Regions from separate parts of the Homo sapiens genome. Here region 2 is linked to region 1. A link means that fine-mapping ties the variant in region 1 to the expression of a gene that starts in the linked region. Tissue or cell type: monocytes after Pam3CSK4. Region 1 holds a variant in brackets; the other region holds the start of a gene. All regions are shown on one strand. Distances are from middle to middle.

Region 1 (5,360 bases):
CGACCTCCGCCTCCCAGGTTCAAGTGATTCTCCTGCCTCAGCCTCCCGAGTAGCTGGGACTACAGGCGCGTGCCACCACAACCAGCTAATTTTTTGTATTTTTAGTAGAGACAGGGTTTCACCGTGTTAGCCAGGATGGTCTCTATCTCCTGACCTCGTGATCCACCTGCCTTGGCCTCCCAAAGTGCTAGGATTACAGGCGTGAGCCACCTGCTTAGTTTTTAATTAAAAAACAAAACAAAACAAAAAACCAGTCTGGGCATAGTGTCTCACACTTGTAGTCCCAGCACTTTGGGGGCTGAGGCTGGTGGATCACTTGAGCCCAGGAATTTGAAACCAGCCTGGACAATATGGTGAAACATCATCTCTACAAAGATTAGCTGAGCCTGGTGGGATACTCTTGTAGTCCTAGTAACTTGGGAGGCTGAGGTAGGAGGATTATTTAAGTCCAGGAGGCTGCAGTGAGCTATGATTGCACCACTGCACTCCAGCATGGGCAATAGAGTGAGACCCTGTCTAGAAAAATACAAAAACAAAAAAAATAAGGTCAGGTGTAGTGGCTCATGCCTGTAATCCCAGCACTTTGAGGAGGCCAAGGTGGGAGGATCACTTGGGCCAAGCAGTTCAAGACCAACCTGAGCAACACAGTGAGACCTGTCTCTACAAAAGTTTTTAAAAATTAGCCAGGCATGGTGGCATGCACCTGTGGTCCCAGCTGCTCAGGAGGCTGAGGTGGGAGGATCACTTGAGCCTGGGAAGTCAAGGCTGCAATGAGCTGTGTTTTCGCCACTACACTTTCACTTTGGTGATCCTGTCTCAAAGTATATATTACTCAAAGAATCATAGACTATTAGAGCTGGAAGGGATCATAGAAGACCTCTACCTCTGTGTTTCCTAAATTATGCTCCACGGAACCTTGAGGTACCTCGTGAAAAAAGGGTTCTGTGGCTAAATGGGTTTGGGACAGGTTGCATACTGTCTCATGCCCTCCTTCCTCTTTGTAGAAGCATGATTCTTCTCACCTTGCTACAGGCTCTGAGAAGGCCTGCAGACAATAAACTTATTTATCATTGTTTGATCCAGTGCTTCCCAATTTACTTGACTTCCCAAAGCTGCTTTAATCATGTGCAGAACATGTTTTAGGAACAAATGATTTATTCCATTGCCTGCATTTTAGTCTTGAAGAAACAAAGTGCCCCCAAAGCCGAGGGCTTTGTCAGCCCTGTGGCCTCAGGAGCTTTCTCTGTACTTCCCCTCACCCCTTCTTTCTCTCTCATGGGGAGCTGGTGCTTTAGACTGAGTGCACCCAGTGTGCAGAGCTGCAGGCCAGGCTGCTGCAAATGTCCCTGGCTGTGATTAGAGCCCACGGTCTTATCAAAGCATCAGGATCCTAAAACACAGAGGAAGGAATTGTATCAGGGAGAAGCACTGGGTCCAGAAGACCCAGAGTCGGCTGAGTCACCATCCGGGTGTGGGACGTGGGTCTGGGGGACAGAGCAGCAAGGGCTGGAGACATGTCACAGCAAGCACCGAGACGCACAGTCAGATGAGTTAAGCAGGTTCACTAATGGCAGGAGAGGTAACAGGCAGAGGGGACTGCAGTTCTCAGCTCCGTTGGGTGGTGGATCTGTTAGCCATGCTGAGTGAGGGACACCAGAAGAAAAGCAGGTTGGGAGGAGGGTAGGGATGGGGCTGCAGGAAGCGGGCTGAATTCCTGAACACAGGTGTGGAGGGTAGAGACCTGCAGAGAATGGGCTTATCTAGGAAAAGAGCAGAGGGAACCCCGTGCCCCAGAGGGCGAACCCAGTGACTGCATGGGCCCTGGGGATAGAGATGGGGCAGGCAGCAATGGCACCCCTCCGCCAGCAGAGGGCCACGGTGTCCGCCATCCAAAGAGAAGTGACACAATGAAGCCCTCAGAGACATTATCTTGCCTTCTGGAACGAAATCCTTGCAACAAAGTTCCCCAACACAGCGCTCAAAGGAGCTGAAGGCGGGCTGAGGGCAGCCAGTGATGACAGAGCCTTCTGGGCCTTTGCTGAGGCGTGCAGTCGCTGACAGCAGGGCAGTTGGGCCTCAGGGATTTCGGGCCAAAACGAGTTTTGGGGATATGTGAAGGAGACAGGGGCAGAGAGAGAGGGTGGGCATCTGCGAACTGGGAAGATTGATGAGGTTGCATGGTTCATAAATAGGAAAGTGGTAACATTCATGATTATTTAAAAATTTCC[G/T]TGAAATACTACAGTAAAGGTACAGAAAAGCATATAAAGTAAAAGTGCAGTTTAAGGGATGGCTGCCAAAGGGCACCATTGCAGGAAGGAACAGGCCTGGCACCCCCAAATCCCCCAGGGGCCCTGCTGTGGTCACAGCCCTCTCACCCCCAGCTGTATCCACCATTCTGACACTTAGAGTAAGCACCTTCTTGCCCTTCTGTCAATTATTTACTACTTAATGATGCTTCCCTAAAGAATGCAGTTTAATTTTGCCTGTTTTGGAATTTTTGTGAATGGCTAGATTCCATCCTGTGAATATGAGCACACTGTTTCTCCATCCTGCTCTCCGTGGGTATTCAGTGCCATGCAGTCCAAGCGGTGATGAAGAATGCCATGCACACTCCTACCCAGGTTTCCTGGTGTTCATTACTACACATTTCAGGAGCACGTTTTGTATCGGCAACTTGGTGAAGACTGATGTCCTTTTGAGTTTTCGGAGGAAGTGCTGGTTCTCCTGCCCTTCTTCAGGGCTGTCCTCCGAGACTGCAGAGAACTAGTGACCACCCTGCTGGCTGCGGAGCTCCTGTCAGTCAGAACTCCTGTTTATTCTCCGCCCGGAACAGGGCCTTGCACCCATATGCAGACAGCCGATGCCACGGGGTGAAGGAATGCTCCGGGAAATCTGGGAAAAGGCGACCAGGCACTTTAGATTGTGGGTCAACCTCTGCCTTCTAATCCTCCATCACTTAGGGGAGAAAGGAGGTAGCCACAGGCTGGCTTTTCCAGGAAAGCCTCCGAAAACCAGACGGACCCAGAGGGACCGGACAGAAACGCTCGGAGGTGCACGACGGTCCGAGCAGGCCCCTGACTGCTGGAATGGGCGTGTCCGCTGATCTGATCCCTGATACCAGCTACAGTTTACTAAAAACTTCTTAGATTTTCTCAGTGCTTTAAACGGATTATCTGGGTTCTGGGGCCGCGCCGGGAGGTGGCGGTGTGGTCCTGCGCGAGCGGCCGGCCGCGTTCAAGTTCAAGCTCCGGGCTGGGAGGGAGCTTCCCGACCTCCGTGTTTCTGTAGTAACTTAAAGAGCCAGGCTGGGGGCCGAGGGGCTGAGGGTGGGAGGGTTCTGCGCCCCCCACCGGGGGGCGGCGGGGAAAGCGGGGGCGCGTGGCCTCCCCTCCGGCTCCGGCGGCACAGCCGGGGGGCCCGGCTCCTCCCCGTCGGGAAGACGCGGCTTCTCTGGGTGGCAGTGAAGGGTCCCCGGGGCCGCGCCCGCCCCCGCGCCACACGGGCCGCGCCGCCCTCGGCCCTCGTCCCCGCTCCCGCCCGCGGTTCCCACCGCCCGGCGAGGTCTCCGGGCCCCTCCCCGGGTCCCCGCCCCAGGCCCCGCCAGACCCGGCGCCGCCGCCGCCGCCGCCGCGGACCCCGCCCGCGCGCCCAGCCCCGCTCCCCCCGCGAGCGCGCTCCCGCCGCCGGCCTCGCCTCCCCTCCCCCTCCCTCCTCCTTCCTCCCCCGCCCCTCCCGCTCCCGCTCCCGCCGCCGCCTCCGCCCGCCGCCCCGGCCGCGTCGGGTAAACCTGTTTGGCGAGGCGGCCGCGCCGGGGCGGATCGTGCGGCCGGCGGCTCCCTCGCGGCTCGCGGCGTCGGGGCCCGTGGCGCGCGCGCGGCCGCCCCTCGGCCCCGGAGCCCCTCGGCGGCGCCACCATGTACTCGGGAGCCGGCCCCGGTGAGTCCTGGCGCTCGGGGCGCCCGCCCGGCCGTTCGCGCGCTCCTGCCCGTGGTTGGCGGGCCCGGCGCGGGCGGCAGGGGCCGGGGATCGGGGGGCCGCGGGGTCGGGGCGGCGGGGGCCGGGGGCGGGCGAGCCGGGGCCGCGCTTGGGGGCTCGAGGAGCGGCGGCGGCGGGGCCGAGCCGGCCGTTTTCTCGGCCCCGCGTTGGACGCGCAGCCCCGGCCTCCTCGGCCCCCGCGAGTCGTCGGGGCGCCCCGCGCGGCCTGGGCCCCTCCCGCGCCTCGGGCCCGCGTCCCAGCGTCCTCGCATCCCCCGCCCGGGGCCCGCGGGCTGGGGCCGGGGCCGAGGCGGCCGCCGCGTGTAGGCCCGAGGCCCGGAGCGCCCCGCTTGGCCCGGCCTCGCTGCCCGGGCGGGGATGGGGGCGCCGCAGCCCGGCCCGGCCTGACCCTGAGCGCCTGAGCGGGTGGAGGCCGGGTCGGGGCGCCCGGCTCGGGGCGCGCACGGGCGGGAGGGGAGGGGGCTGCGCCGGTCCCGACCCCAGCCGCGGTGAGTCTGTGGCGCGCTCCGTTGTGGCCCTTCTTGTTGCCGGCACTTCTTCGGCCCCTTTTCCCAAGGAAAGTCTGGAAATGCTGAATTTTGGCCAATTCCTGTAGTTAGGGCTGTCGCCTGGAAAGGGGAGGACGCGGCTCCCCGGAACCCTCAAACTGCGTGCGCGGCTCGTTCTCATTCCAGACACGCCGGCCTCCCCATTCAAGTGCTAATTCCTTTTACAATTTCCTAGGAGAGGTGAGGCGAGGTGGATTCCTGTAGCACCCCTTGTTGCTAGTCGGCCTTTCTCTGGAAAAGTTCTAAAAAACTTAAAGCGGTAACGCGTTGTTTTTCTTTTTAAATGCAGAGTAGAAGGCGGTCTCCTTGGTGGGCCAAAAAAACGGTCAGGTGTTCTCCTGCTTTTGGCGTGCTCCCACCGGGCACGTGGCTCCTGGCTCTCTCGGCCGGCCTGGCCGCTGGGACGGGGCACCGCCTGCTCCCCTTTGTCCGCTGGGCCCCAGCCGGGCCGCAGGCGGCGCAGGCCCCGCCGGGCTCTGGGCTTATGTTTACCCGGCCGGGCGAGGAGGCTCGCATTCCCGATGCTGCCCTCGTTGCTGCAGACCGGCCCCAAATTGTGGGGTCCGGAAGGCCCCCTGGCCCACCTTGGTCCGTTGATGGTGGCCCCCACTGCTGGAGCTGTTGGCTCTGTGCCTTGCGAATGTCGCGTCTTTTTTCTGATGTCATTTAGAAAGCTTCAACAAGGCGGAGTCTGACCAACTTTTCAACCCCTGAGGGCCATCAGCAGTTTGAAGAATGATTTTCCCCCTCCACCTGGGAGGGGCCGCAGTCCTGGAGCAGGTGCTGGCCTCTAGAGGCCTTGGGTGGCCAGGCCCC
Region 2 (5,360 bases), 130 kb after region 1:
AATGACCAACCTCTAGAGTAAAAGAAAGAAGCGGCCGGGAGCTGTGGCTCAGGCCTGTAATCCCAGCACTTTGGGAGGCCAAGGACGGCGGACCAAGGATGGTCAGGAGATCGAGACCATCCTGGCTAACACGGTGAAACCCCGTCTCTACTAAAAATAAAATAAAAAAAAAAAACAAAATTAGCCGGGCATGGTGGCGGCTGTAGTCCCAGCTACTCGGGAGGCTGAGGCAGGAGAATGGCGTAAGCCCGGGAGGCGGAGCTTGCAGTGAGCCGAGATCGCGCCACTGCACTCCAGCCTGGGCGACAGAGCGAGACTCCGTCTCAAAAAAAAAGAAAAAAAAATAGAAAGTAGCAAAAAGCCATTCAAAAATTCTATTTGGCTCAGGAATACCTTTTTAGTCTTCTATTTGCATACACTGTTTCTAAGGTGGTTCACCTACAACTATAGTGACCACAGCTTACATTTTGCCAAAACTTTTCTATTCTAGGAACTGACATACAACCCTCAGACCTAATGAAACAACCGGAACTGATCTTCTCCCTCCTGCATCCCAGTTCTTATAGCAGGGCCAAGTCTTCATTTTTACAGAGGCTGAACTGAGCCTCTTTCTCAAGGTTTTGACTTTAATGCATCTAGTTCAGTTAATAAGGGATGAGAAAGACGGGCGTGATGGTTCACGCCTGTAATCCCAGCACTTTGGGAGGCTGAGGCAGACGGATCACCTGAGGTCAGGAGTTCAAGACCAACTTGGGCAACATGGTGAAACCCTGTCTCTACCAAAAAATACAAAAATTAGCCGAGTGTGATGGCAGGCACCTGTAATCCCAGCTACTCAGGAGGCTGAGGCAGGAGAATCATCTGAACCCGCGAGGCAGAGGTTGCAGTGAGCAAGACAGTGCCACCGCACTCCAGCCTGGGAAACTCCATCTCAAAAAATAAAATAACGGGTCAGAAGTGCCTGCATAAATCCTCATTCCTTAATACCAATAGAATGAAATTGTATAGGAAAATACAAATGTCCCCAGATGAAATGCTGAATATGCAATTATTTCCCTGGGCTCTAGGAAAACATGGCTCTGACATAAAGCGGGCAAGAAACCTGTAATTTCCCACTTCCCTTAGTTCTAGTCCAACACTGCAGGGACATCATATACTTAACTACAAGTAGGGACTGGAAAATAGAATCCAAGACAAGCTAAAGCATTTAACTGTGTAGCTGAAACATGGCCCAGTGTCAGAACAGGAAAACATCTGGCCTAACACTATCGAGACGCAATTTTTTTAAAAAAAGACAAAATTATCTATTTTGCACCCAGGAGGATGCTAAGCAGGCTGTAAAACTTAAGTTCCCCGGACTTCCTTAAATTCTGGTTGGGGAATGTGCTGCCTCTTAGACGAGGGGCCCCAGCTGTGGCGGGCGGGAGGGCTCGAAAGCCTCGGACCGCTGGAGCTGGCACCGCACGCGCGGGAAAAGAGCCTCGAGTCGCGGGTGAAGCGCCCGGCTGCCCCTCCCACGGGACACTGGAGGAGTTAGGGCCCTCAAAGCACGAAGCAGTCCAGTGACAAGAAAAAGGCAGGCCGGGAGTAGGGAGTCGCGGGTGAAAGAGCCCCCAAAGAACCCAAATGAGAAGAGCGCCACTAGGCGCCGACGCCCACGGGTAGGGCCGGAAACTGAGCGCCGCACGCGAGGGAGGACGTGAGCGCACAGGTGGGAGGGACGAAAGGCGCGCAGAGGAACGCGGGAGCTTACGGGTTTGCCGAATGGAAGCGCGAGAGAAACGGCGGGAGGACAGTGGGGTGGGCGGGGCGAAGGTGCGCACGGAAGGAAGGGGCGGGCGGAGCGAAGGAAGGCGACAAAGGGCGGGAGAGGCGCGCGGTAGGCGAGGCGAAGAAACTGGAGAACGTGAGGGAGCGGCGAGGGGTGGGCGGGGCGAAGACGCGCGAGAAAGTGTGGGGGCGCGCGGGCACCGAAGCGCGCGCCGGCGTGGGACGGGGACAGCGGGGCGCGCGCGAGCCCGGCAAGAGCAGCCGGCGGCGCGCGGGCCTAAGGGGACTGGGCAGTGCCCAGAGCCCGGCGGGGCGGGGCGCGAGGGGTAAGGGCGGCCCACACCCCCGCCCTGCCCCCTCACCGTGGCCTTGGCCGTGAGCACCAACGCCTCCTGGTTGATGCTGGACACCTCGGGGGAGCTCTTCATGATGACCCGGATGCGGGATAGAGGCAGCGAGATGAGCCGCTGCTCCCCGCCCTTGTCTTTACCCACGACCACGTCCGCCATCTTCCCGCCCGTCGCGCGGGTGCCCGCAGCCGGCGGGCCCGACCGCGAAGTGGCTGCCCTGCCCGGCCAGCTGGTGGGTACGGGGAGCCGCGCCCGCTGCCCCGTGGGAGTTGTAGTGTGGGGAGGCGAGGCCGCGAGGCCGGGAGCGGCCCGTCCGGGAAACTACGAGCTCCGTGAGGCCTCGCGCCCCCGATCTGCGCATGCGCCGACGCTCGGACACCGCCCCCGAGTGCGAGGCCCGGCGCGGAACCGGCAGCCGAGAGCCTGGCGGGGGCGGGGCGCACCGCGCCGCTCCCGGGAGTCTCCGGGCTGCGGTCGCGGAATACGACTTTGATCCGCGGGTGAGGGCTCTGTGAATGGGCAAGCAAAGCCCTCTGACTCCGGGCCTCGTGGCTGGGTGCTGTGTGTTAAGCGCCTGCGCTGTACTAGGACCGGGCGTGCCGCCGTCGGCAAAAAGTGACGCTTTCTTGAAGCACAAAGTCCAGGGGGGACGACCAAGCGGACAGCGGATGCGTCCTGCGCCGGTAGCCAGGCGACCGGTGGAAGAGCAGAGTCCAGCGCGGGCGATGCGGCGGGGCCAGGCTTGCTGCGCCGCGGGGTGATTGGGAGAAGAGCCTTCCTGCGGGGTGGAGGACGAAGAGCTGCCCTGAGGAGGTCCCGGAGTCTGGTGGGAACGGCCTCTTCGGGACTGCTCCGAGAGACGGTGTGCAGAGCCTGGCGTGCTCGCCGAGGTCTGACAGGCAGCCCGGGGCTAGGTCCTGTTGGATTTTTTTTTCTAAGGAAAATGGGAAGTGGTGGTAGGGTTTGAGCAGTGGAGTCCCGGGCAGTTTTAAAAGGATCCCTGCAGCTGCCGGCTGGGAGGGCGTGGGTGCGCGTAAGGCCGGAATCACAGAGACCAGGTAGAAGATGATTACGAGAACCCAGGAACGTGGCCCTCAGGAGGCCGGCAGTACCAAGGGGACAGCAGCTGGGAGGAGAGAGGCAGGAGATGGTCAGGGGCCAGACCAGGGAAGGCCGCGGAGACCGCAGAATTCGCTCTGAATGAGTGGGGAGGCCCTTGGAAGAGTAAGGGGTCCAACTTAACTTTTTTTTTTTTTTTTTTTTTTGACACAGAGTCTCGCTCTGTCGCCAGGCTGGAGTGCAGTGCGATCTCGGCTCACTGCAACCTCCAACACCCCGATTCAAGCAATTCTCCTGCCTCAGCCTCCTGAGTAGCTGGGATTATAGGCACGCGCCACCCAGCTAATTTTTTGTATTTTTAGTAGAGACGGGTTTTCACCATGTTGGCCAGGATGGTCTCGATCTCCTGACCTCGTGATCCGCCCGCCTCGGCCTACCAGAGTGCTGCGATTACAGGCGTAAGCCACCGCGCCTGGCCACCAACTTAACTTCTGCCAGGATCATGGGAAGTGGTAGGGTTTGGGGTCTGATTTCAAGAGGGAGCTGCTGTGGAGTATCAGCACAGCTTACTGAGATATCAGAAAGGCCTTGGTAAAGAGCCCTTTACTGAGACAGGGAGCACATTTTGGCAGAGGTTTGAATTGGAGCGTGTTAAGTGTAGTGTCTTCTTCACCACTGTGACGTGAGGTCCTGGCGCAAATAATTGAGCACAGAAATACATGTCAGGCATTGCTAGGCACAAGGGTACAGCCAGTGAGCAGGGCTGCCATGGTCCCTGCCCTCTTAGAGCTGACCTTCAGGTCTGAGGGAGACTGAAAAATAAGTAAGAATACCTCCAGCCGGGCGCTTTGGCTCACGCCTGTAATCCCAGCACTTTGGGAGGCCAAGGTGGGTGGATCACCTGAGGTCAAGAGTTCGAGACCAGCCCAACCAATATAGTCAAACCCCATCTCTACTGAAATTATTAAAATTAGCTGGGCGTGGTGGTGGGCACCTGTAATGCCAGCTACTCGGGAGGCTGAGGCAGGAGAATCGCTGGAACCCAGGAGGCAGAGGTTACAGTGATCCGGGATCGCGCCACTGCACTCCAGCAGCCTGGGCGACAGAGGGAGACTCCATCTCAAAAAAAAAAAAAAAAAAAAAATACACCTCCAATGCTGAAAGCTACGAAGGAAACAAAACCATGTGCGAGTGATAGGGCAGCCCCTCTGGGAAGTGACATTTGTGCCCAGATCTGAAGAAAGAAAAGGAGCCACTCATACAGAAAGACTGAGACAAGATGAGCTTTCGGGACAAGTCAGGCTCTAGGGAGAACACCTGACGAGGAAAATGCCTGGGCAGTTTGAGGAACTGAAAAGCCAGTGTGTCTGGAGCTTAGTGAGGGAGGCAGAGAGCACGGGAGGTGTGGTTACCAAGGTAGGTGGGACCGGCTCTGGCCCTGGGTAAAAAGTTTGACTTTCATTCCAAGAGTAATGGAAAATAATGAAGAATTTTGAACTCGAGGTGGTGCATGCCTGTAATCCCAGCACTTTGGGAGGCTGAAGCAGGCAGATCGCTTGAGCCCAGGAGTTTGAGATTAGCCCGGGCAGCATAACAGGGCAGCATCTCTACAAAAATTTTATTTTTGGCCGGGCGCGGTGGCTCACACCTGTAATCCCAGCACTTTGGGAGGCCGAGGGGGGGCAGATCTCCTGAGGTCAGGAGTTCGAGACCAGCCTGACCAACATGGCGAAACCCCGTCTCTACTAAAAATACAAAAAATTAGCCGGGCATGGTGGCACGCGCCTGTAATCCCAGCTACTTAGGAGGCTGAGGCAGGAGAATCGCTTGAACCCGGGAGGCGGAGGTTGCAGTGAGCCAAGATCACGCCACTTGCACTCCAGCCTGGGCAACAAGAGAGAAACTCCATCTCAAAAACAAACAAATCCAGACCAGCCTGGCTAACATGGCAAAACCCCCTCTCTACTAAAAATAGAAAAATTGGCTGGGCATGGTGGTAAGCACCTGTAATCTCAGCTGCATTGGCGGCTGAGGCAGGAGAATCACTTGAACTCAGAAGGTGGAGGTTGCAGTGAGCACAGATCACACCACTGCACTCCAGCCTGGGCAACAGAGCAAGACTCTCAAAAAAAAAAAGTTTTGAAGGGAGCAGATCCACTTTAAAAGCTCACACTGGTTCTT

The links. PIP is the estimated chance that this variant, and not a neighbour inherited with it, causes the effect.
Region 2: it holds the start of CHRAC1, and the variant in region 1 is fine-mapped to the expression of CHRAC1 in monocytes after Pam3CSK4 (Quach 2016, PIP 0.92).

The regions. Positions count from the first base shown.
Region 1 is chr8:140,634,061-140,639,420 of GRCh38, reverse strand. AGO2 (argonaute RISC catalytic component 2) reads left to right here and starts at 3,788. Exons shown (of 19, transcript NM_012154.5): 1 at 3,788-3,936. The coding sequence starts at 3,915. It overlaps ERICD (E2F1-regulated inhibitor of cell death), which reads right to left and starts at 5,186. Exons shown (of 1, transcript NR_170171.1): 1 at 1,138-5,186. RefSeq lists silencers at 3,224-3,623, 4,274-4,443, 4,927-4,976 and an enhancer at 4,783-5,360. The variant G/T (reference allele first, on the strand shown) is at 2,229.
Region 2 is chr8:140,508,419-140,513,778 of GRCh38, reverse strand. CHRAC1 (chromatin accessibility complex subunit 1) reads right to left here and starts at 2,457. Exons shown (of 3, transcript NM_017444.6): 1 at 2,133-2,457. The coding sequence starts at 2,279. RefSeq lists enhancers at 1,395-1,704, 2,765-2,974, 2,985-3,064 and silencers at 1,745-2,754, 4,932-5,112.